3 linked regions of the Homo sapiens genome follow. The protein of the gene in region 2 purifies or fractionates together with the protein of the main gene of each other region. This does not show direct contact. Each region holds a gene or a part of one and is shown on either strand. Other genes may lie near its edges.

Evidence for each region.
Region 1: the proteins of CSNK1G3 (region 2) and ANKRD13D purify together in Homo sapiens (affinity purification with mass spectrometry; 2 studies listed by BioGRID and IntAct, with this or other methods). This does not show direct contact.
Region 3: the proteins of CSNK1G3 (region 2) and ANKRD13A purify together in Homo sapiens (affinity purification with mass spectrometry; 2 studies listed by BioGRID and IntAct, with this or other methods). This does not show direct contact.

The regions. Positions count from the first base shown.
Region 1 is NC_000011.10:67,291,932-67,299,979, reverse strand, and holds part of ANKRD13D (ankyrin repeat domain-containing protein 13D), read right to left. Parts: intron 7,990-8,048; coding exon 7,800-7,989; intron 923-7,799; coding exon 856-922; intron 451-855; coding exon 369-450; exon of another isoform or gene 359-368; intron 154-358; coding exon 92-153; intron 1-91. UniProt on the Homo sapiens protein: Ubiquitin-binding protein that specifically recognizes and binds 'Lys-63'-linked ubiquitin. Does not bind 'Lys-48'-linked ubiquitin.
Region 2 is NC_000005.10:123,515,177-123,523,224, reverse strand, and holds part of CSNK1G3 (casein kinase I isoform gamma-3), read right to left. Parts: intron 1-8,048. UniProt on the Homo sapiens protein: Serine/threonine-protein kinase. Casein kinases are operationally defined by their preferential utilization of acidic proteins such as caseins as substrates. It can phosphorylate a large number of proteins. Participates in Wnt signaling.
Region 3 is NC_000012.12:110,023,066-110,031,113, reverse strand, and holds part of ANKRD13A (ankyrin repeat domain-containing protein 13A), read right to left. Parts: intron 7,069-8,048; coding exon 7,002-7,068; intron 5,373-7,001; coding exon 5,291-5,372; intron 3,410-5,290; coding exon 3,348-3,409; intron 2,606-3,347; coding exon of another isoform or gene 2,603-2,605; coding exon 2,472-2,602; intron 1,637-2,471; coding exon 1,479-1,636; intron 470-1,478; coding exon 356-469; intron 1-355. UniProt on the Homo sapiens protein: Ubiquitin-binding protein that specifically recognizes and binds 'Lys-63'-linked ubiquitin. Does not bind 'Lys-48'-linked ubiquitin.

The sequences.
Region 1 (8,048 bases), on a different chromosome or scaffold from region 2:
AGGGCGGACTCAGCCATCAAGGTGACAGAGGGTGCCCTCCCGCCCAGGCTCGGCCCCCCGCCAGCCCTGTCTCGGCCCAGCCCCGGCTCACCCCGGTGTGGGAGGAATGCTGCTGCGCCATCCCCAGGAAGGACTGGAATGGAGTCTTCCCCGCTACGGAGAAGGGGTGGGAGCTGGTAAGGGGTCACAATGCTCGCATCGCCCCTGCCCACCTCCACCCCTGGAGCCTACTGTCTGGGGGAAGAGGGGTCAGACGGGAATGGGGAGGCCTCCCAGCTCATCCTGGGAAACTCTGGCCCCTAATCCCAGGCCAGGGTGACCCCACCACACGGTGTGACCGGGCAGCAGGCAGGCGCACCTGGGTTTACCTTTGCTCCTCGACTTGTCCTGATCAGAGAGGTGCTCCGTGCGTGTGCGTGTCACCAGCTCCACGTTGGTGGCACTGTACACCTGGGGAGCAGGGGACACGGGGAGCTGGGGGCTCAGAGCCTGCTCCCCACACTCAGCCTCACCAGTGCAGAACCCAGGTCCTCCTGTCCCAGAGACAGATGAGATCTTGCTCCCCAAAATGGAGGAGGTGGCAGGGTCTGAACCCCAGGAAGTCACCAACGAGGAGATGCAGCCCCAGGGTCAAGAGGAACACACTCCTCTTTTGATCTCGGTACCCTGGGTAGGGGCCCATGATGTGGGTGAGCCCTGTGTACTCCGCAGGGGCTGGGCACTCAGGCCCGCTGAGTTCCCACAAATGCTCAGGGTTTCCAGAGCCCAGGGGCTACTCTGGGATGGATGTGGAGAGGAGCTGAGTTCCTGGACCTCATCTCCTACCCCCAGCCCCCCACCCCTAGCCTCTCCTGCCTTGGCCTCGTAGCCGCTAACAGTTTCCATCTTCTCAGACCGCCAGCCCCAGATACCACATTTGTTCCTGAAACAGACCAAACAGGAGCTGGTGAGACCTGCACCCTCACACGCTGGCCAAAGCCTTCCTTTCCAAAGCCCCCTCCAGCCAGCCTGCCCGGGGTGCCCAACTCTCAGGGCCCCTTCTCGCTATGAAACATGGAGGACCCCTGAAGAGGGTGCCTGGACAGGGGGGGACACTTGAGCATGGACTTGGGACTAGAAGACACTGAGGAATTAGCATGAATCTTGTGAGGTATGATAGTGTCGGGGCTGGGTTTAAAAACATCCTTGTCTTTTAGAATTGTGCAGAAGCATTTACTAGAAACATTAGGACATCTGGGATGAGCTTTGACACACTCTAGGAAACATTTTTAAAAAAGGTAAGGAAGGATAGATTCAGTAAGATTGGCAAGATGTTGATAAATGTTGAAGCTGGGTGATGAGTAAGTACATTATCTCTTCTTTCATATATGTTTGAAATTTTCCAAAATAAAAAGCTAAAAGAAAAGTATGTCAGTTGGAGACTCCAGTACCCCACTTTCAATAAGGGATAGAACAACTAGAAGATCAACAAAGAACCAGAAGATAAGAACAACACTACAGCTGGACTTCATAAGCAGGCTAGAACACTCTACCCAATAACAACCACACACACGCTTCTCACGCGCACACGGAACACTCTTCAAGGCCATACACTAGGCCATTAAGAAAACCTCAATAAGTCCGGGCGCGGTGGCTCATGCCTGTAATCCCAGCAGTTTGGGAAGCCAAGGGGGGTGGATCATGAGGTCAGGAGATCGAGACCATCCTGGCAAACATGATGAAACCCCGTCTCTACTAAAAAATACAAAAAATTAGCCGGGCACGGTGGTGGACGCCTGTAGTCCCACCTACTTGGGAGGCTGAGGCAGGAGAATGGCGTGAACATCGGAGGCAGAGCTCGCAGTGAGCAGACAGTACCACTGCACTCCAGCCTGGGCGACAGAGCGAGACTCCGTCTCAAAAAAAAAAAAAAAAAAAAAAAAAGAAAACCTCAATAAAATTGAAAGGATAGAAGTCATACAATGTATGTTTTCCAACCACAATGGAATGAAATTAGAAGTCAATAGCAGAAAAAAAAAACTTTGGAAATTCACAAATATGTAGAAAGTAAACAACACACTCCTAAATAGCCAACGTCTCAAATAATAAATCAAAAGAGAAATCAGAAAATACTCTGAGATAAACAGGAATAAAGACACAACATATCAAAACTTATGGCCGGGCACGGTGGCTCACGCCTGTAATCCCAGCACTTTGGGAGGCCGAGGCAGGCAGATCACAAGGTCAGGAGATGGAGACCATCCTGGCTAACACAGTGAAACCCCATCTCCACTAAAAATACAAAAAATTAGCCGGGCGTGGTGGCAGGCGCCTATAGTCCCAGCTACTCGGGAGGCTGAGCCAGGAGAATGGCGTGAACCCGGGAGGCGGAGCTTGCAGTAAGCCGAGATCGTGCCACTGCACTCCAGCCTGGGCGACAGAGCAAGACTCCCTCTCAGAAAAAAAAAAAAAAACCAAAAAACTTATGAGACACAGGTAAAGGCCAGGCCAGGCCCGGTGGCTCACGCCTGTAATCCCAGCACTTTGGGAGGCTGAGACAGGCAGATTGCTTGAGCACAGGAGTTCGAGACCAGCCTGTGCAACATGGTGAAACCCCATCTCTACTAAAAACAGAAAAAATTAGCTGGCGCCTGTGTTCCCAGCTACTCAGGAGGCTGAGGTGGGAGGATCACTTGAGCCTGGGAGGCGGAGGTTGCAGTGAGCTATCACACCACTGCACTCCAGCCTGGGCGATGGAGTGAGACCCCATGTCAAAAAAAGAAAAGACATGCCTAGAAGTATAAATGTAATATGTGTGAATGCCTATATTAAGAAAGAAGATCTCAAATCAATAACCTTAACCTAACCTTCCATGTTAAGACAATGGAAAAAGAGCAAACTAAACCAGAAAGAACAGAAAGAAATAATAAATATTACAGTAAAGGTTAATGAAATAGAGAATAGAAAAATAATAGAGAAAATTAATGAAACCAAAAACTGGCTCTTCGAAAACATCAACAAAATTGACAAACCTTTAGCTAGGTTGACCACGGTGGGCAAAAAAAGAGAGAGAAGACTTGGCTGGGGGCGGTGGTTCACACCTGTAATGTCAGTGCTTTGGGAGGCCAAGGCAGGAGGATTGTTTGAGGCCAGGAGTTCAAAAGCAGCCTGGATGACATAGTGAGACCACATCTCTACAAAAAAAGAAAATTAGCTGGGCTTGGTGGTGCATGCCTGCAGTCCCAGCTACTTGGGAGGTTGAAGAATCACCTAAGCCCAGGAGTTCAAGGCTGCAGTGAGCTCTTATCATGCCACTGCACTTCAGCCTGGGTGACAGAGTAAGACTCTGTCTCAAAAACAAAACAAAACAAAACAAAACAAAACAAAACAAAAACTTCAAATTACTCACCAGAATCAGAAATGAAAGAGGGGAGCAACAGAAATAAAAAGCATTATAAAAGGATACAATGATAGCTGTACACCAACAAATTTTATAATTTAGATGAAATGGACAAATTCCTAGTGAGACACAAACTACCAAAACTAATTTGAGAATAAATAGATAATCTGAATAGATGGATAACAAGTCAAGAGACTGATTGGTAAATATAACAACAAAAAACTATACACACATACACACACACACACACACACACACACACTCAGGCCCAAATGGCTTCACCACTGAATCCTACCAATCTTTTGAAGACAAATTAATACCAATTATTTGCAAACTATTAAAAAAAATAGACAAAGAGGTGACATTTTCCACTTCAGTTATGAGGCATCACCCAGATACCAAAACCAGACATATATCACAAGAAAACTACAGACCAATATCACTTATGAATATGGACACAAAATCCTCAACAAAATACGAACCAACCAAATCTAGCAACATATGAAAAGAATTATACACCACAACCAAGTGGAACTTATCACAGGAATGCAAGGTTGGTTCAATATCCATAGGTCAATTGATGTATCAATAGAATTTTTTAAAAAATCACATGATCATATCAATAAACACAGAAAAAGCATTTCACAAAATCCAACATCCTTTCATGATAAAAACACTCTAACAATGAGGAATGGAAAGGAATTACCTTAACCTGATGAAGGGTATCTACCAAAAACTCACAACTAATATCATACTTAATGGTAAGACTGAATGTTTTTCCCCTAAGATGAAGAACAAGACAAGAATACAAGGATGTCTGCTCTAACCACTTTTCTTTTCTTTTTTATTTATTTATTTACTGTTTTAGATGGAGTCTTGCTCTGTCACCCAGGCTGGAGTGCAGTGGCACAATCTGGACTCACTGCAACCTCTGCCTCCTGTGTTCAAGCAATTCTTGTGCCTCAGTCTCCCAAGCAGCTGGGACTACAGGTGCCCACCACCATGCCTGGCTAATTTTTTTTTTGTTTTTGTATTTTTAGTAGAGATGATGTTTCACCATGTTGGCCAGCTTAGTCTCAAACTCCTGACCTCAAGTGATCTGGCTGCCTCAGCCTCCCAAAGTTCTGGGATTACAGGCGTGAACCACTATGCCCAGCCTGCTCTAACCACCCCCCTTTTTTTTTGAGATGGAGTCTTGGTCTGTCGCCCAGGCTGGAGTGAAGTGGCGTGATTTTGGCTCACTGCAAGCTCTGCCTCCCGGGTTCACACCATTCTCCTGCCTCAGCCTCCTGAGTAGCTGGGATTACAGGCGCCCGCCACCAAGCCTGGCTAATTGTTTGTATTTTTAGTACAGATGGGGTTTCACCATGTTAGCCAGGATGGTCTCGATCTCCTGACCTCGTGATCCACCCACCTCGGCCTCCCAAAGTGCTGGGATTACAGGCGTGAGCCACCGCATCCAGCCTCTAACAACCTTTAATCAATATTCTACTGGAAGTTCTAGTCAGAGCAATTAAGCAAGAAAAAGAAACAAAAGGCACCTAAATTGGAAAGGAAGAAATACAACTAAATCTATTTACAGATAACATAATCTTATATGTTAAAAAAAATACTGAGGAAAGGAATCCACTAAAAATCTACTTGAATGAATGAGTTTAGCAATGTTGCAGGATACATGGTCAACATACAGAAATCAATTGTAATTTTATACATTTGCAATACACAATCAAAAAATAAAATTAAGAAAAACATTTGATTCATAATTGTATCAAAAAGAATAAAACCCTTAGTGGCCAGGCACGGTGGCTCACACCTGTAATCCCAGCAAGGTCAGGAGTTGGAGACCAGCCTGGTCCGACATGGTGAAATCCTGTCTCTCTAAAAATGCAAAAATTAGCAAGGAGTGGTGGTGGGCACCTGTAATCCCAGCTACTTGGGAGGCTGAGGCAGGAGAACTGCTTGAACCCAGGAGGTGGAGGTTGCAGTGAGCCTAGATTGTGCCACTGCACTCCAGCCTGGGCAATAGAGTGAGACTCCATCTCAAAAAAAAAAACAAAAAAACAAAACAAAACAAAAAACAGAATAAAACACTTAGGAATAAATGTAACAAAAGTGCAAAGCTTACACTCTGAAAACTATAAAATAATGTTGAAATAAATTAAAGAAGATCCAAATAAATGGAAAAACATCCCATGTTCACGGATTAGAAGACTTAACATTGTTAACATGGTACTATTCCCCAAACTGCTTTATAGATTCAGTGCAATTCCTATCAGAATCCCACCTGACTGTAGAAATTGACAAGCTGAATCTAGAATTCATATATTCTGCCTACACTGGGTTGTGAGAAAAAAGAAAATAGAATTCATATAAAATGCGAGGGTCCCAAAATACTGAAATAACCCTGAAAAAGAAAAACAAAGTAGGAAGACTCACACTTTCCAATTTCAAAACTTATTGCAAAGCAACAGTGATTAAGACAGTATAATATTGGCATAAAGACAGACATGTAGACCAATGGAACTAATGTGGGAGTCAGAAAGTAACCAATTTATCTATGGTCAACTGATTTTCGACAAGGGTGACAAGACCATTCAGTGGGAAAAACATAGTCTTTTCAACAAAGGGGGCTAGGACAACTGGATAGTCACATGCAAAAGAACCTTCCACTATACACAAAAATTAACTTAAAATGGCTCAAAGACCTAAGTGTAACAGCTAAAATTATAAAACTCCTATGACTCAATAATCAAAAGATGACCCAATTTTTTAAATGGGTGAAGGGATAGGTGTGGTGGCTCATGCCTGTAATCCCAGCACTGTGGGAGGCCCAGGTAGGCAGGTCGCTTCAGCCTAAGAGTTTAAGACCAGTCTGTAGACTCTATCTCTACAAATAACTAAACAAAACAATTAAATGATATAATAAAATAATTACAAATAATTTAAAAATTAGCTGGGCATGGCAGCATGCACCTGTAGTCCCAGCTACTTAGATCACTTGAGCCTGGGAGGTGGAGGGTGCAATGAGCCATGATCATGTCACTGCACTCCATCCTGGGTGAAAGGCCAGACCCCATCTCAAAATAAATAAGTTAATTAAGTTAAATAAAAAATGAGTAAAGGATCTGAATAGACATTTCTGCAAAGAAGATATACAATTGACCAATAAGCACATGAAAAGATGCTCAACATCATTAGTCATCAAAGAAAGGCAAATCAAAATCACAGTGAGCTATCACTTCTCACCCACTAGGCTGGCTAGATTCCAAAAACAAATGAGTGAATAATGACGTGTTGATGAGGATGTGGAGAAACTGGAACCCTCACATGCTGCTGGTGGGAATGTAAACCAGTACAGCTCGTTTGGTAAACAGTCAATTAAACAATGAGTTATCAGTAACCTAGCAATTCCACTCTTAGGTATATACCCAAGAGAAATGAAAACATATGAAAGAGAAATTAAAACATACGTCTACACAAAAACTTGCACATGAATACTTAGAGTGGCATTATTCATAAGCCAAATAATGCAAATAACCCAAATGTCTATCGATGGGTTAATGAATAAACAAGATATGGTATATTCATACAATGGCCACAAAAAGGAAAGAAATAGTTACGTGCTACAACTTGGATGAACCTTGAATATATTATACTAAGTGAAAGAAGCCAGACACAAAAGGCAACATATTATAAAATTCCATTCATATGAGAACTCAGAGCAGGGAATTCTACAGACACAGAAAGTAGATTAGTGGTTGCTTAGGACTGGGAGAGGGGATAAGAAGTTTGGCGAAGAGTTAGCTAAAGGGTGGGGGGTTTCTTCCTGAGGTGATAAAAATGTTCTAAAATTGACTGTGGTGATGTACAAATCTCTGAATAAATATACTAAAAGTCATTGAACTGTATGCTTTAAATGGGTGATCTTATATGGTATATGAGATTATATCTCAATAAAGGTTTTTTGTTTTTTTTTTTAAGTGTTTCCACTGACTGTTAAGGCAAGAGGGGGCATGTGTTGTCAGAGAAACTCTTGCTGGAAGGGTCAGGTTCCTAGGCTACCCACAAAGGATTCTGCCCCCAACACAGCCGCACCAATGACAAGCCAACATTGGTGCAAAGAGCTGCCGTGAACCACAGCCTAAATCTTTGTCTTAATGGGAAAACATATGAGGTCAGAAGTCAAGAAACTGGGGACATCTTGACCTGACCCCTCCCCACAAAGGTGGCCACAGGAGCCCAACCACCCCGGCAGTCTGAGTGAGACACGGGCTGCAGCAACCCACCTGCCCCTGAGCAGCCCCTTGTGAGTGAGCCCAGAGGCCTGAACCAGGATCTTCAAGGATCGCCCTGCCCTCATTAATGGTGGCTCTTGCTATCCGTCCCCATCCCACCCACGGTGTGCCAGGACCCGACCGACCTCTCAAAGGCCACATTACGAGTGTCCAGGTGGGTGGAGACGATAGGAGAGGTGAGGCGACTGGCCACATGCTCCTCGCTGGGCCGCATGGCGGCCAGCAGTGTTTCGGGCTCCTGCAGAGTGAGCCCCAGTGTCTCCACATGCACCACCTGCCGGTCATGGTCCACTTCCATCACCAGGGCTCCTGCCTCTGCCGGCCGGTAGGGGTGGACAGAGGGGGCGCAAATCAGTGCTGGGCGCCAGCAGTGC
Region 2 (8,048 bases):
TAAGGTAAAATTTTTTCACTGAGCGGGAATAAACAGAGACCGTTCCTCATCAACAGTGGTATAAAAAAGAAGAAAGCAGAAGTGCAGTTATACTAAATAATCTTTGAAGTCCCTTCCATCCTGATGTTCCATAAAAAATACAGCTCAATGATATTGTAAATATGATAAATATAACCTAAAATGAATAACTTTTTATTAGTAACACTTCTTCCCCTCTTATAATTTATAATAACTTTAGAGATATCACTTAGGTCTCCTAAGATTTCCAGAAACAACTGAATTGATGCCTTAATTTATATTTGATAAATTTCCCCATAACAAACTTTCCAAGCTTCAGAAATCCTCTAACTTTGGCGTTATACTTAATCAAAGACTGCTAATGAGCAATGAATATAGGGGCCTCACTAAGGATGCTAAGTACAATTGACCCTCATTATCTATGGGCTCCTCATCCTTGGATTCAACCAACTGCAGATTGAGATATTCAGGGAAAAAAAAGCATCTGTACTAAACATGCACAGACTTTTTTTTTTATCATTATTCCCTAAACAATACTTCATAACAACTATTTACACAGCACTTACATTGTATTAGGTATTACAAGTAATCCAGGAATAACCTAAAGAATAGGGGAAGGTGTCAAAGGTTATAGGCAAATACTGTGCCATTTTATGTCAGGTACCTGGCCACACCCTCAGATTTTTTTTTTCTTTTTTTTTTTTGAGACAGAATCTCGCTCTATTGCCTAGGCTGGAGTGCAATGGTGTCATCTCGGCTCACTGCAACCTTTACCTCCCAGGTTCAAGCGATTCTCCTGCCTCAGTCTCCCAAGTAGCTGGGACGACAGGCGTGTGCCACCACGCCCCGCTAATTTTTTTGTATTTTTAGTAGAGACAGGATTTCACCGTGTTAGCCAGACGGTCTCAATCTCCTGACCTCGTGATCCGCCTGCCTCTGCCTCCCTAAGTGCTGGGGTGAGCCACAGCACCCAGCCCATCCTTGGATTTTGATAGCCATGAGGGGTCCTGGAACGAATCTGAGGAACTGTATGAAGCTATGAGCAGAAGCCACTACTTTAACTTGATTCTCTTGCTAATATTTTCTTTGCATTTTCTTCTGTGTCATCTTCATACCTCCACCTCAAATTTTAAAAAGACAGTTGGAAAATAAAAGAAAGCCATTTTTTTAAAGGGCTGAGAGTGTAAAAAGAAGGAGAAATTAGTTATTTTCAACCCTGCAGGACACTGGAATCGTCTGTAGAAATCCTAAAATATATCAATGCCCTAGCCCTTTCCAGGCCCTACTGATTATTTATGGAATATAAATTAGCATGGGTAGAATCCCAACATCTGTCTTTTTTTTTTAAGCTCCCAAGAAAACTGTAATATGAACTCGGGCCAAGAACCACTAGTAAAAACTTTCTCCACAAATCCTTCCCTCCTCTCATCTATTTAGTTAAATGTTAGCATTCCCAGCCCATAGCAAGGACTGCATGAACTATCTTTAAAATTGTCCATTTTTCTTCTTTCATTTACTCTGTCACAGAAGAAAAATTACTAATTTTCAACTGGAAATTTTTAAACAAGTGTGTATAGTAAAATTAATTTTAGCTTATTGGATATTCTCATTCCCAAATGCTCAGGATTTCTTTTTCAGTCTTAAAAAAACCACCTTCATTAGTAGGTATTAAGGTAAACAGCAAAGCATACAATAATAAGCAAACTCACAATATGCATTCTAGTTATCGACTTTCAATAGATATCAGAAAATACTCAAAACAATTATCTTAAGGAGCTGATTATATTTTGATACTTTATTAACTACAAACATTTGCAGAATCTCAATTATATAAAGACACATCAGCAACAATATATCCTGATACTCGTATGACAGAAAAAGTACTCAGTAAAGATCCTTTTTTTAAAATAAAAACTGGCATCACAAGATTCCACATCTTTAAGATTTAAAGATTTACATTTTTGGAGTAGGGAGAGTCAGACTGTTGTCAGATTCCCTAAAATAAATGTAGAAAAGAAAATAATGTTTTGTAAAAAATATGCATCTATAAACACTTTTTTTCAAGGTCATCTAAAACTGACACCTACTAGTTTCATCTCCAAAACAATACTAGACTATTTTTGTACTCCAAATTAGAATTTTATTAAAAGGTCCTGTAGTCATAAATTTGCACACCCTAAGACTTATAGAATACCATAAATTTTCTCTCTTCTGTCCTGATTACCTAATATATTTGCCTGCCACTTGAAAGTATTCATTGCTAGAATATAAAATAAGTATTTCACAGAAATAGAAAATAAACATGACACACAGTGGGTGTAAAGAAAAAAAACATTTTCACTTCCCTTTTTACTAAAGGAAATTCTGAATATAATTTTAACTCTAATAAATCACAGTCTAATACACTGCCTAGTATACCACCTGAAGTCAAACCAAACAAACTAAAAAAATAAATAACACAATAATTTCAAAATATTCAGAAGTCCACTAATTTTATAATGTATATTTGTACCAAAAGATATTATATGGCCAATTTCAATTTAAAATTTTAAGATAAGTAATTTTAATACATCCAATTTTAAACATAAAGAAATCTGCAAAGTATCAATACATTTGAGGCACACTTTATTCATGGTAATATACAAGGAAAGCAGTTATATATTAAAATCTAAACTGGTAGAAAACACATCCCACCCCAAGATTCTACCCCCCTCAAAAAAAAAAAAAAAATTACTGTTTTTTCTGATGGTAGAAATAATGCACAGTGACAGCTGAAAACCCAAACAATATAGAGAAGTAAATGAAGTATAAAAATAAAAATCATCCTAAATCTCACCATTTATAAACAACTGACATTAACATAAATATTCTTCCAGAAGATGGATGGATTTACTCCATATACTTACAACCCATACATATATGTATCTATGTATACATGTATAGTATATATGCACATATATATTCCTTTCATTTACATATATTGATGGTAAAGAAATGCTTAAGATCATTTTCTTGAAAATAAAATAATGAATTGTCCCAAACAGTCTGCTTTTGCATTTTCATTTAAGCAGGCTAGGTTTAAGATTATTCCATGTGTGTGTGTCTGCCTGTCTTTCTGTGTGATGTTGTCATTGTTGTTGACTGCTTGAGGCAAGCTGAAAAATTTTGTCTGTTTACTTATTTTACTGGAAAAAAAAGAAAACTTCTGGTTAAATTTTTCCAAAGCCTAAGAACACAGGTATCTGTACTAAAGGTGATTAGCTGACTGATTTACATTGGTAGCCCACAGTCCTGAGCAAAACTGTAAAGTAGACAAGATTATTATGGCCTCCTAATTCTTACTCAGAAAGAGCACTCCACTAGTAATTAGGATATAAGAGTTCTACTAATCAGGTGTGTGGCTTGAGCATTTCAATCTTCCTATGATTCATTTTAAGTCTAAAATCCTATGGTCCTTCCCTTCCTCCCCAACCCCTTACCAACTCTGCTGCTCTCAAAATATGTAAAAACCATCCTTTCCTCCAATCTCACTGGAATTCCAGGATTCAAAATAAATCCTTCTGACCAAGAAACTCCCATTTCCTCAATGCACTTATTCTCCCCTAGATATGATAAGCAAAGTAATCAATGAAATCAAAGGTATGGGCAACTTCATGGTGAGGAAGGAAAGCAACAATGCAGAAAAAAAAATTTAAACAAGTTTATAGGAAAAAATTTTAATGTAAAATTAAATGGCTTCATGAGTTTCATAGAAAAAAATTATAATCTTTCAACTTCACCACCTATTTTATTGATTCAAAGTTAGCCAATGAAAAAATAAAGTAGTGTTTTTAGCTCCTAAAATATTCAGACCCAGCCGGGCACAGTGGCTCATGCCTGTAATCCAGCACTTTGGGAGACCGAGGCAGGCAGATCACCTGAGGTCAGGAGTTCAAGACCAGCCTGGCCAACATGGCAAAACCCCGTCTCTACTAAACATACAACAATTAGCCAGGAAAGGTGGCGACTGCCTGTAATCCCAGCTACTCAGGATGCTGAGGCAGGAGAATCACTTGAACCCAAGAGGCAGGGGTTGCAATGAACCGAGATCATGCCATGGCACTCCAGCCTGGGAAACAAGAGTAAAACTCCGTCTCAAAAAGTAACTTGCCAGCCACGGTGACTCAAGCCTATAATCCCAGCACTTTGGGAGGCCAAGGCAGGCAGATCACTTGAGGCCAGGAGTTCGAGACCAGCCTGGCCAGCATGGAGAAAGCCCATGTATACTAAAAATACAAAAATTAGCTGGGTGCAGTGGCATGCACCTGTAATCCCAGCTACTTGGGACGCTGAAGCACGAGAATCGCTTCAAAACAGGTAGACACAGCGATCACTATTTATCATCTCTCTAACATCCATATCCCCCAAATTCTTCCTTCCCACAATTTTTTTAAAATATCCTCCCTCTTCCATCTAACTCAGAAAAATGTGATCCCAACACCAATTGCAGAAGGTATCTCCTGATTAGTAGAAACCAACCATGATAACCTTACTTCCCTTATGATAACTAGTTAGGACGTTCATGTGACCTAATTCTGGTCAATAAGATACGAAGAGAAAAATATGTTGGTAGGCTTATGCAAAAGATGTATTTGCTTTTCCAGAGACACAGACAGAAAGAGAGAGAGAGATCCATTCCATCCTCTGGCCAGTGCATGTCTAGATGTGATCTTGCTGCTGGCCTTAGGATGACTCCAACACACAGAAGACAAACAGCCAAGAAAATCACAGAGGGGCAGACCAGAGCTCTCAAGTACTAGCTTGGAGCCACCCACCCTACCTTCATACTTCAATGTGCCATTTCAGCATCTACTGTAATTCAGCAAGCAATGTGGTTACACCAAAATAAATAGCATACCACATATACCACTCCTTCTCCAACCTGGACTTCCTGCTCCTTCAACTGAAAGTTCTCCTTTCCATTTGGACTGAGCTAGGTGAGATAGGAGGCTCAAGTGCTCCTGGTATATATCAAGGGTGTCACATTTCCTCCTTCAAAGAACAATCTCCTCTACCCCAGCATTCCTAATTGGATGGAGATGTTGGAACTATAAGAAGGCTTACCCCTTCAACCCTGACAGTACATAAAAGTTGAAAGGTAGCTTATGAAATCAGATTAGGGACCATACTGGGAAATATGTGAGAACCATAGATTGATCACCTGACTAGATAAACAATTCACTCTAAGGAATGAACCTCTGGGAATAACAGGATCTTCCTTTTTTTTTTTTTTTTTCTTAAAGAGGATGTTATTAAATAAATCTCTAAGCAGTAGTGTAAACTAGGAAAGATGATGTTTTAGAAGCAGACTTCTTTAATATATTACAATTAATAAATGGTTCTGAAGTTAGCCTAAAAAGGAAATCATTTCTCAACATCTACAAACTCTATACATTTTATTACAACTAAAACAAAAATGTCCATTCACAAGACAATCTTATAATACAGAGCTATGGCCTTTTCTTCCAGTGTGGGTCTATCGAAGAAAGTTCTATTTCCTTTTTCTTGCAAAAACTACCCCCATAAAACAACACCTGTGATTTCCAGTTTCTGTTTCTTAAACACAGAAAGACATTTTACAAACGTGAAAAATAATATTATTGCAGATTTTTTTAGATCGTTAGGTGTTTTTTGTTTTTTTTTCCCTAATCATTTAAAATTATTTAACCCTCATCTATTTCAACCATAATTGATTTTGGCTACTCACTTGATTTCAAAGTAGCCAATTGGTTCTCATACAAACGCCTTTTTATCTTCAGAGTTCACTGAATAATAATTCATTAAACTATGTGATTACAACATCAAGTGCCATAACAGTGTGTTGGGTACAAACACAAATGTTTCTTGGTAAGTCTACAGTAACTGGGGGGAATAAAAGTTCAAGATAAAACTAAAGAATAGTCTACTGTCATTCAATGTAGCATGAGCATCAGTCAGCAAATTCTACAGAGAGAATGAAGACTATCATTTAATCTCACGAGTGGGTTAAGCAGAGGTCAGGTATGAGAGATTTTCCTGTAATAGGGTGTTCCCGAGAGTCTTTGCTTGTCTACCCACCAATCCACCCTCTAAAATTCTTATCGGCAACTTCTGAAATGAAGGACAGAAGATTTACACAGTGCCTACTATGTGGCAGGCATCACATAGTCCTTGGCACTTCATATGAATTTCCTCCATTTTGATGAAGAATATAATGGCAGAATAACAGGGTAACTCTCTTCCCTTTTTTTCCAAATGTAGCTATCAACTGAAGAAAGTACTTCCAGGTAACACAAAGTGATCTAAATAAATGTAATAAATTTGAATACAACTTCAACCTCACATTACTAACCTAGAGAAAAAAAACATTAAACTTTGTATTTAAGAAAAAGAGTATCATGAGACCATCTCTCATTCCATTGAAAAGTTATGAAAAATGCGGACATGATTTAGCCATGTGGACATAACTTACTCATAAATTTTCAATAAATTACAACTATGTAATATATCATTGGTAAACAAAGCGACCAAAAAAGTGTGTCTTATCTCCCCAATACATAAACACTTCAATTCATTGTTAAGAGTTATTTCTTATAACTAAGATGATAAGCACGAAGTGGCAGGAGAGAGTATAACCAATCACTATGGTCTAACAACAAATAAACACATACTTTCCTTAGGTTTCATAATAGAAGGGAAGCCCAAACATTTATAGTTGCTAAATCTCAGCTTTCAGAGAGAGCTTAAAAAAAAGAAAAAATGTCTAACAGCAGCCTCCACCATGTCGCTAGAAGTTATATATTTCTACATTTATCTCCCATTCCATATTTCCTGAGCAGTTCAGATGCCCTTGAAAATCATTTCACATTATTAAAGCACATTTGATTTCTACACATTAAGAATCCAAGCATAGTTCTGTCCTGCAGATCAGCAAAAGGTGATGCTCTGAGGTGCCTTAAATTACCAGAACCATACTGTCTGCACCTACAGGATCCCACAATTAAAGACAGATACCTCAAAACTACCGCTTCTGAAGAAATTACATCATAAAGAACCAACACTCAGACACATACTATCAATTAATACCACGAATTGCCAACCGCTTGAGAAAAGACCAAAAAAAGGATGAAGATGGAAGATAAGAAAAAACAGATCATTGGTGGCTTAAGACTTTGAAGTCAGAAAAAAAAACTGACTCAAATATGCACTCTGCTACTTCCAAGATATATCTTCAACACATTATTTAAACTCTAGAAGACTGTTTCCTGCTCTCAAAAATGAGGTTACACCACCTAACTCAGAGTTGTCGTAATAGTATCATTTATGGCCTCTATACAAAGTAGGCACTTAATAAATTATAGGAGGTATTGTTGTTACTGGGAGGTTGAAGGGAACACAAATTCAGTTATAAGTCCTTTTTGAATACTAAGAGGGGAATAATTAGGGAAGCTAAGAGGGGAATAATTAGGAGAAGAAAAAAAAACTTCAAACAATTTTCCCTGTAACATGATTTTACTTGCATTTATAAACTGATTTTTTTTTCTAAGCACTCCTTTGATAATGATTAAGTGTGGGGTTACATTATTTTAGGGTCGTCTAATATTTAAGATGACTTAAAAACCTCACACACGTTAATCCCGAACTGTGAAAATTTCTCATCTTATCATCCCTCTGTTACTATCAATTTTCCTCACGTACAGATTCTTTTATAATTACTTCATTAAAACCACTTTCTGTGAAAATATACATTCTTTACATTTCATCTCATCCACAGCAAATCTCACTATTAACAATAATATAACTATTCAATGACCTATATTTTGTTATTCAATACTTCAGCATTCCTTCTATTTAATTTGACACATCCTTTTGGGAAGCCCTTTGGAACAAAACAACCGCTTGTTCCATTCTGAAAAACATCTGAAACAATAAACTATACCAGAATAAGTCTACTCCCAGCATGGAGAGGATTACAGGATGGATCAGAGGAGACACAGAGAAGTAACTGGAGA
Region 3 (8,048 bases), on a different chromosome or scaffold from region 2:
TTTTTTTGAGATGTAGTTTTGCTCTTGTTGCCCAGGCTGGAGTGCAATGGTACAATCTCGGCTCACAGCAACCTCCATCCCCCCGCCTCTCCCCCAGTTCAAGCGATTCTCCTGCCTCAGCCTCTCGAGTAGCTGGGATTACAGGCATGCGCCACCACACCCGGCTAATTTTTGTATTATTAGTAGAGACAGGGTTTCTCCATGTTGGTCAGGCTGGTCTCAAACTCCCGACCTCAGGTGATCCACCCACCTCGGCCTCCCAAAGTGCTGGGATTACAGGCATAAGCCACCACGTCCGGCCATAAATTTTTTTTTAAATAACAAAACTAAACTTTGTATTTATTTATTTTTTTACCTGAATCAGCCTGGGTCCCTTCCACATTTTGAGATACAGATTCTTCGGCAGTGCTACAGCCATTAACATTTCCAAATGTAATCCGTGCATTTAAGACATGAAACAAGGGAATTTCTAACAAACAAAATAAAAACTTTTATAAGTAAACTTTACTGAGAATAACAATAATAGTTATCATTTACTAAGTGCTTACTATGCCAAGTACTTTGATAAGTATAATTTTATTTAAGCCTCATAACAACCCTTCCCAATACACAGACGGGAAAACTGAGATTGAGAGTTGTGTATTTTCGGTCAGGCGCGGTGGCTTACACCTGTAATCCCAGCACTTTGGGAGGCCAAGGCGAGCTGATCACCTGAGGTCAGGAGTTCGAGACCAGCCTAACCAACATGATAAAACCCCATCTCTACTAAAAATACAAAAATTAGCTGGGCGTGGTGATGCATGCCTATAATCCCAGCTACTTAGGAGGCTGAGGCAGGAAAATCGCTTGAACCCAGGAGGCAGAGGTTGCAGTGAGCCAAGATCATGCCACTTCATTCCAGCCTGGGCAACAGAGCGAGACTCCATCTCAAAAAAAAAAAAGAGAAAATGAGTTATGTATTTTCTCCTAGATCACAGTGAGTAAGTGATCAAGCCAGGGTTCAAGTATCATGAACATACAACTATCCAAAATTAATACTCTTCATGAGTAGTATGTATGATATATACATATATAGCATTATGCATACTAGCTTGGGACGTAGATCATATTTACATATCAAAGGATCTTGGTGTCAACTGTCTTCCTCAAATAATTATCTAATTTGAAGTCTCACTGAATTAAGGTTTGACATTAAAACAATGACTGTGTCATGTTTTTATGCCTTTTTATATCTGTCAGCACCATTTGCAAATAGAAATGATGGTTGGAGATCTCTTGACTTTGATACACAAAATGAACCACTAATCATAACACTTCTTTAAATCAAACCACAGGAGAACTCTGACCTCCTCTGTTATGTCTATAAGCTACTTTGACCTAAAGCACTCCAATTCCCTGAAGCATCCTGCCACCCACATGCTGCCACCCACAAACATGGGCAGAACCTCCAAGTGTTGCTGAAGTTTATTTAGCAGTACCTATTTTGACAGGAAATCCAGGTGGGAATTCCAATTTGATGAAATCTCTCAGTCTTGCAAAATGAGCACTCGTTCGAGCCATTAGGTCAATGATGGGAATGACCTGCTCCACCAGAGAGAGGGGAAACTCTTCACACATCCACAACATTGCTTTAAACCTGCAGAATTCAACCAAGAAAAGACTGAGGTCATCTCCACCAGATGGGAAAAGGAGATTATTGCTATGCAGTAGGCTAGACAACAGCAGCTTTACTCCACACTCTGCCCAGTCATCTCTTAATTCAGACCTATTAAAGGTCAAATGTCTAGGGCCACAAGGAATTCACATCACCCTAAAATCTGGCAATAAAGGCAAGCGACCTGCATGACAACCTGCCACGATCAAAGCCTTAATTGACAGCAAGCATGAAGAAATGATAGCGGGTGGAACAGTTTCATTTGAATTTGATCAGCTGAAGCTGGTTAGCAATAAAAAAAAAAAGGAATTCTTACATCCAATCTAGATTCTATTTGGAAAGGAGCTAATAACATGGACAATCTACTGTTAGCTTTCATGGCAAAGTAATTTTAAAATTATTTTTTATAAAAAGGGGCAGAGGAGGCTGGGCGCAGTGGCTCATGCCTGTAATCCCAGCAGTTTGGGAGGCCCAGGCGGGCGGATCACAAGGTCAGGAGTTCGAGACCAGCCTGACCAATATGGTGAAACCCTATCTCTACTAAAAATACAAAAATTAGCTGGGCGTGGTGGCACGCGCCTGTAGTCCCAGCTACTCAGGAGGCTGAGGCAGGAGAACCGCTTGAACCTGGGAGGCAGAGGTTGCAGTGAGCCGAGTTCGTGCCACTGCACTCCAGCCTAGGCGACAGAGCGAGACTCCGTCTGAAAAAAAAATAAGGGTGGTGGGGAGGGCAGTGGAATGATCCAACATAACACCATAAAACAGCACAATTTCTGAAACATACATAGGTTGAAAATGGCAGCTGAACCTCTCTTACTTCTGTGTTCTAATCGTCAGCTCTTTCGGCCTTCCAATGTCCCTGTCTTTCAGATCAAACTCTTCATTGAAGTACTCATCAGGCGTGATGGCTGTGGGGTTGTTTGCAGTAGCACATTCCGTGGTGAGGTCCTGCTGAGCCAGAACTCAGGAGAGTCAGAAATGCCAAATGATGTTCACAAGTGAAGGCCTGTGGCACTCAGTGTCTGAGGTGGACGTGTTAACCAGCTAAAGACCGGGAAGTTCTATTCACTAACTTTTTTGCATGGAACAAGAAAATCTATGAGGATATCACCAAACTACACAGGAAGTGTAATGGATTTCTTCATTTTAAAATATTTCTCTACTCTCCTTTACATTTTTATCTCCTGATTATAACAAAGAAAAAAAGAAAGAAATATCTGAAAGTGCATGAGACTTGGAAGACTTGGAGTTGAAGTTCTAGCTGTTTCCCTGTCTAGCTTTGATAGTGGAAAGGTAATTTCATTTTTCTGACCCGCAGGGACATCCACTGTACCAAGTTCATATAGTTACTGTGAGCATCAAGTAAGAAAATATTTGTTAAGGTGCTCTGTTGCAATATAAAGTCCTGAATCCTTTTTAAGTTCCATTTCTATAAAGAGGCCCCTCGTTTATAATGGATAAGAGGGAAAGCACCTGATTTCTATAATCACTACCCCTCCTCTAAAATCCTTATTTATTTTCAAAGAGTCACTCATCTAATTCTCTTCCAAAAGAGTATCTCAAATTCCAGCTTGGGGGTATCTTTGGCCTTTACATAGAGTGGGCTGTTCAGGATCCAGTAAATGCCATCCCAGACACAGACAAGTTGTTTCCTTTCATCTAACTGCAATGAAAGCTCATTGCTTCAACTTACCCCTTGTGCACCAAATTGGTGTTCCACAGTTCCCAGCAAAGATTCCAGCGGGTTCCTGTCTGCTACAGAGGGGTAGGGAGTTTAAAGTCTAATATTATATCTCACTTGTGGCTATAAAAAAAAGATCTTCATTAAAGTTTCTGGTCCAAGCTACCTCATTAGGAAATGCAATTACAGACTGGCTGATCAAATCATTCACAATAACCATAAACTAATTTATCCTTTATAGGGTGCTTTTCATGAGGATCTCTAAACTAGATAAACAGTTGTAAGAATTAAAGCAGAATAATGGGAAGAGTCTGGATTTTGGAGTGAGCCAGACCTGGATTCCAACCCCACCTTGGCCACTCGCTACCCATGTGTTCTGGGCCTCAGTTCCCTCATCTGTCAAAGTGGAGTAATGGCAATGGTGGTGGTGGTGCTGGTGAACAATTACTGCATGCTTACCACATACTGCAGGCGCCATTCTAAAGGCTTCCACGTCGTAACTCATCTAATCCTCTCAATAACTCTAAGGAAGGTTGGGTATCACCTGCATTTCACTGCTGAGGAACTAAGGCACAGAGCAGAAGTAATTTCACAAGGCCATAGAACTGGTGGGGCTGGGATGGGGCTGGGATGTGGCAACCACATGCAATGTTTTTGCTTGGACCCCAAGTTCTGTCTAAATCTTTCATCACAATAGTTTGGACTAAATCACTCATTCCAATGATAAATATTCTCAAATGTCCTTATCTCCTTTTTTGGCTGAATTCAACAATTGTTCTTGATAACACATAAACAAGCCCTCACGAATAGCTTTAATTACAGCTGAGGCCAACTATGGGGAAACACCTCCAAGAATGAGTCAGACTAAGGAAATTTTCTTTCCTTTTTCTTTTTTTTGAGACAGAGTCTAGCTCTGTCACCCAGGCTGGAGTGCAGTGGGACAATCTTGGCTCACAGCAACCTCCACCTCTGGGGTTCAAGCGATTCTCCTGCCTCAGCCTCCCCAGTAGCTGAGACTACAGGAGTGCGCCACCACGCCTGGTTAATTTTTGTATTTTTAGTAAAGATAGGGTTTCACCATATTGGCCAGGCTGGTCTCAAACTCCTGGCCTCAAGTGATCTGCCCACCTTGGCCTCCCAAAGTGTTGGGATTACAGGTGTGAGCCACCGTGCTCAGCCAGGAAATTTTTTTTTTTTTTTTGAGATGGAGTTTCACTCTTGTTGTCCAGGCTGGAGTGCAATGGCACGATCTCAGCTCACCAAAACCTCCGCCTGCCAGGTTCAAGTGATTCTCCTGCCTCAGCCTCCTGAGTAGCTGGGATTACAGCCATGGGCCACCACACCCAGCTAATTTTGTATTTTTTTTTAGCACAGATGGGGTTTCTCCATGTTGGTCAGGCTGGTCTTGAATTCCCGACCTCAGGTGACTCGCCCACATTGGCCTCCCAAAGTGTTGGGATTACAAGCATGAGCCACCGTGCCTGGCCAGAAATTTTTATAAAAAAGAAGTTAGGGGCCAGGCACGGTGGCTCACGCCTGTAATCTCAGCACTTTCGGAGGCCGAGGTGGGTGAGGATCACCTGATGTCAGGAGTTCGAGACCAGCCTGGCCAACATGGTGAAACCCCGTCTCTACTGAAAATACAAAAAATTAGCCGGGCGTGGTGGTGGGTGCTTGTAATCCCAGCTACTCAGGAGGCTGAGGCAGGAGAATCACTTGAACCCAGGAGGCAGAGGTTGCAGTGAGCCAAGGTCGTGCCACTGCACTCCAGCCTGGGTGACAGGGCGAGACTTTGCCTCAAAAAAAAAAAAAAAGAGAGAGAGAGAGAAGAAGTTAGGGTTAGGCTTAACACAACCCAATCACATTAACCCTAAACTTAACAGAGCCAACAAAGAGTTCCCTCTAGGCTTAAAAAATAACAACAAAACAGGAGGTGGGAGGGTGGTGGTGATTACCTTTATATCTCTTTTTTTCCTCCTCGGTCAGATGTTCTGTGCGTATTTTGGTGATCACATTCACATTGTTTACTGTGTAAACCTGAGAGGTGTATGCGAAAGAAAACAGTGACACAGGGAATCAAAACTCCAAAAGTAAGCACAGCAAAAGCAAGAATGCTGAAGCAAAAAACAGAAAACAATCCAGCAAAATAAAAATGAGAAATGGTTAACTATCATTAGGATCCTTCAGAGAAAGTATATAAACTATCAACTGAAAAATGCATCAGCAGTTACCTCCCATGTTTGACAGTTTTAATACTAAGGAGTTAGCAGTGACAGGCTGCATCTTCCTGCTTGCCCTGCTGTGGCTAAATAGTCTCAAACAAATGCCCTGCAATCTAGGTTTCCACCTGGGTTTCTATTAAACTAAGGTACCCAAACCAGGATCCTGTACTTCTGTTGGTAATTTTTTTTTTTTTTTTTTTTGAGACAGAGTCTCCCTCTGTTGCCCAGGCTGGAGTGCAGTGGCGTGATCTCTGCTCACTGCAGCCTCCGCCTCCTGGGTTCAAGCGATTCTCGTGCCTCAGCCTCCAGAGTAGCTGGGATTACAGGCATGTGCTACTATGACTGGTTAATTTTCGTATTTTTAGTAGAGACGGGGTTTCACCATGTTGGCCAGGCTGGTCTCAAAATCCTGGCCTCAAGTGATCTGCCTACTTGGGCCTCCCAAAGTGCTGGGATTACAGGCGTGAGCCACTGCACCCAGCCTCCGCTGGTAGTCTTGTAATACTAGTATGACTCAGACAGCCATCTGCTGGGCAGAAGAGAAAGGTATGAACACAAGGTTCTCTATAGACTTATGAGCTGTAGAGAAAACCAGCAAGTCACTATTTAAAAGGCATTCTGTGCACTGACAAAAATTATTGTAACTGCCAGAGCAAATGCTCTGTTATCAAGGATAACTGGGGAATATGGTGGTCTAGAAAATCAAACATAACAGTTAACAAAGAATTCTCTCTATATGCCACGTGAGGAGCCCCAACATTCAAAGCTGCAGAAAACACACTCAGCACTATGACAAGTGCTTCTAAATGTATCTTGCTGAGCATGACGTAAGCCTTTCTTTGCTCACTCAGAGGCCACCAGAGGACCCTGCAGCACTGGGCTCCAACACCAAAAGCCATCAATCCCTGTTGTACTGAGGGACTGAAAGGCCAGGAAACAGCTTTCCAGCTGACAAAATGCCAGATGACTGGATCAACAATCGTCTCCACTATTACAACTATGTTTTAAATGCACTGATGTCATGCAAATGGGCTGTGCGCCTGCTGATTACAATTAAGCTGATTTAACAAAAAAGAGACTCAAAAGCTACTACACAACATTTGAACACATGTGAAGTCTAATCCTTCCTCTTCCTTTTTTTTTTTTAAATAATTAAGGGAATGACTAGCTTGTCATTCCTACCAGAACAACTGGTACCTGTACTCATTTCTCTACCATATTGTTTCTCTTTAGCATAGCTACAGACCTCCTCAGGGCATGCTATCCCATTTTCTGAAAGTCAAATAAGACAAAATCAAACATCCAAGTGAGAGACACATTAGACAGTTCTCATTCCCCAGAGCATCTCCATGGCACAGATGCATGAAAAAAATGGGAACAGATTCCTCATTTGCATAGAAGCTAAATAGCTATATTAAATCTTATTTTAAGAGTTTCCTTTTACCTTTGCTTCGTAACCATTAACAACTTCTGCTTTATCTGTCCTCCAGCCCCAGAATCCGGATTTAGTTCTGATAAAAAGTGAACACCACAAATTTCTACATGTACAATATGCCATTCAGATTTATATCTGTAGCCTTTATAGTTTTTTTCCCCCCCAGCTTAAGTTAGTGAAGGACACTTGGAAATCATGGTCCTATTGTCCACAGGAGGCGGTTAGCAATGACAGATGGCTTATGCACCCTCCACCCTCCTCCCACAGTTATTAATCAATTTGCCTCACCCCAGGCATAGAAAGCCTCCAATCTTGGCTTCTTTACAAAACTGCCAGCATTGAGGACAAAGGTGGTGACATTTATTGGACAGCAGTCCCAAAGAAGTGACTGAAGATGACCAGCATCCAAGGGCTTGCCACAAGGTGGTAACCAGGTCAGAGCATTTATCTGGGTCATCTTAACTGGGGACATGCATGTCAATGGTGGGATCTCCACAAGTAGCCACATCTCACTCGAGGAATTCTTAGAACAATGAGGCACAGACCATCCTGCTCCTTACAAAAGAGCAGGTGGGCCAGGAACTCATCACTGTGGTGAGCTGCTTGGAGATGCCATTAGGTCTGCAAAATAGCTGAGTCACATGTTTGGGCAGGTTTGGTGCAGCAGGGCAAAGGATGTGAAAAACAGATTTTTTTAGCCCAGCTGTTAATTCCATCTCTGTGGAACTCCTTTTAAAGTAGCCCAGCATTCCAGTGGCAGATGCAGCATTGGTAATATGCCCAAAATCTCAGTTATTCAACTCAACATACTCCTGAAAAAAAATGTATTTAGGAACCAAAAGCAGCCAGGAGGCTCTGATTCTTTTTCAAAGCAGCTTGCCCTGGGAAACGCTCCCTCTCACAGGGGATCCCTGACCAGCCCTACCCTTTGTCTAGGACATCACATCCCAGCTCCTCTTGGCCCTGGCTACGGCAACAGCCTGACTTCTGCTCTGACCACTGAGTGGTTGGGATGTCATGCAGGAAGCTCAGGGAACAGCAGCAGGTTAGCCACGT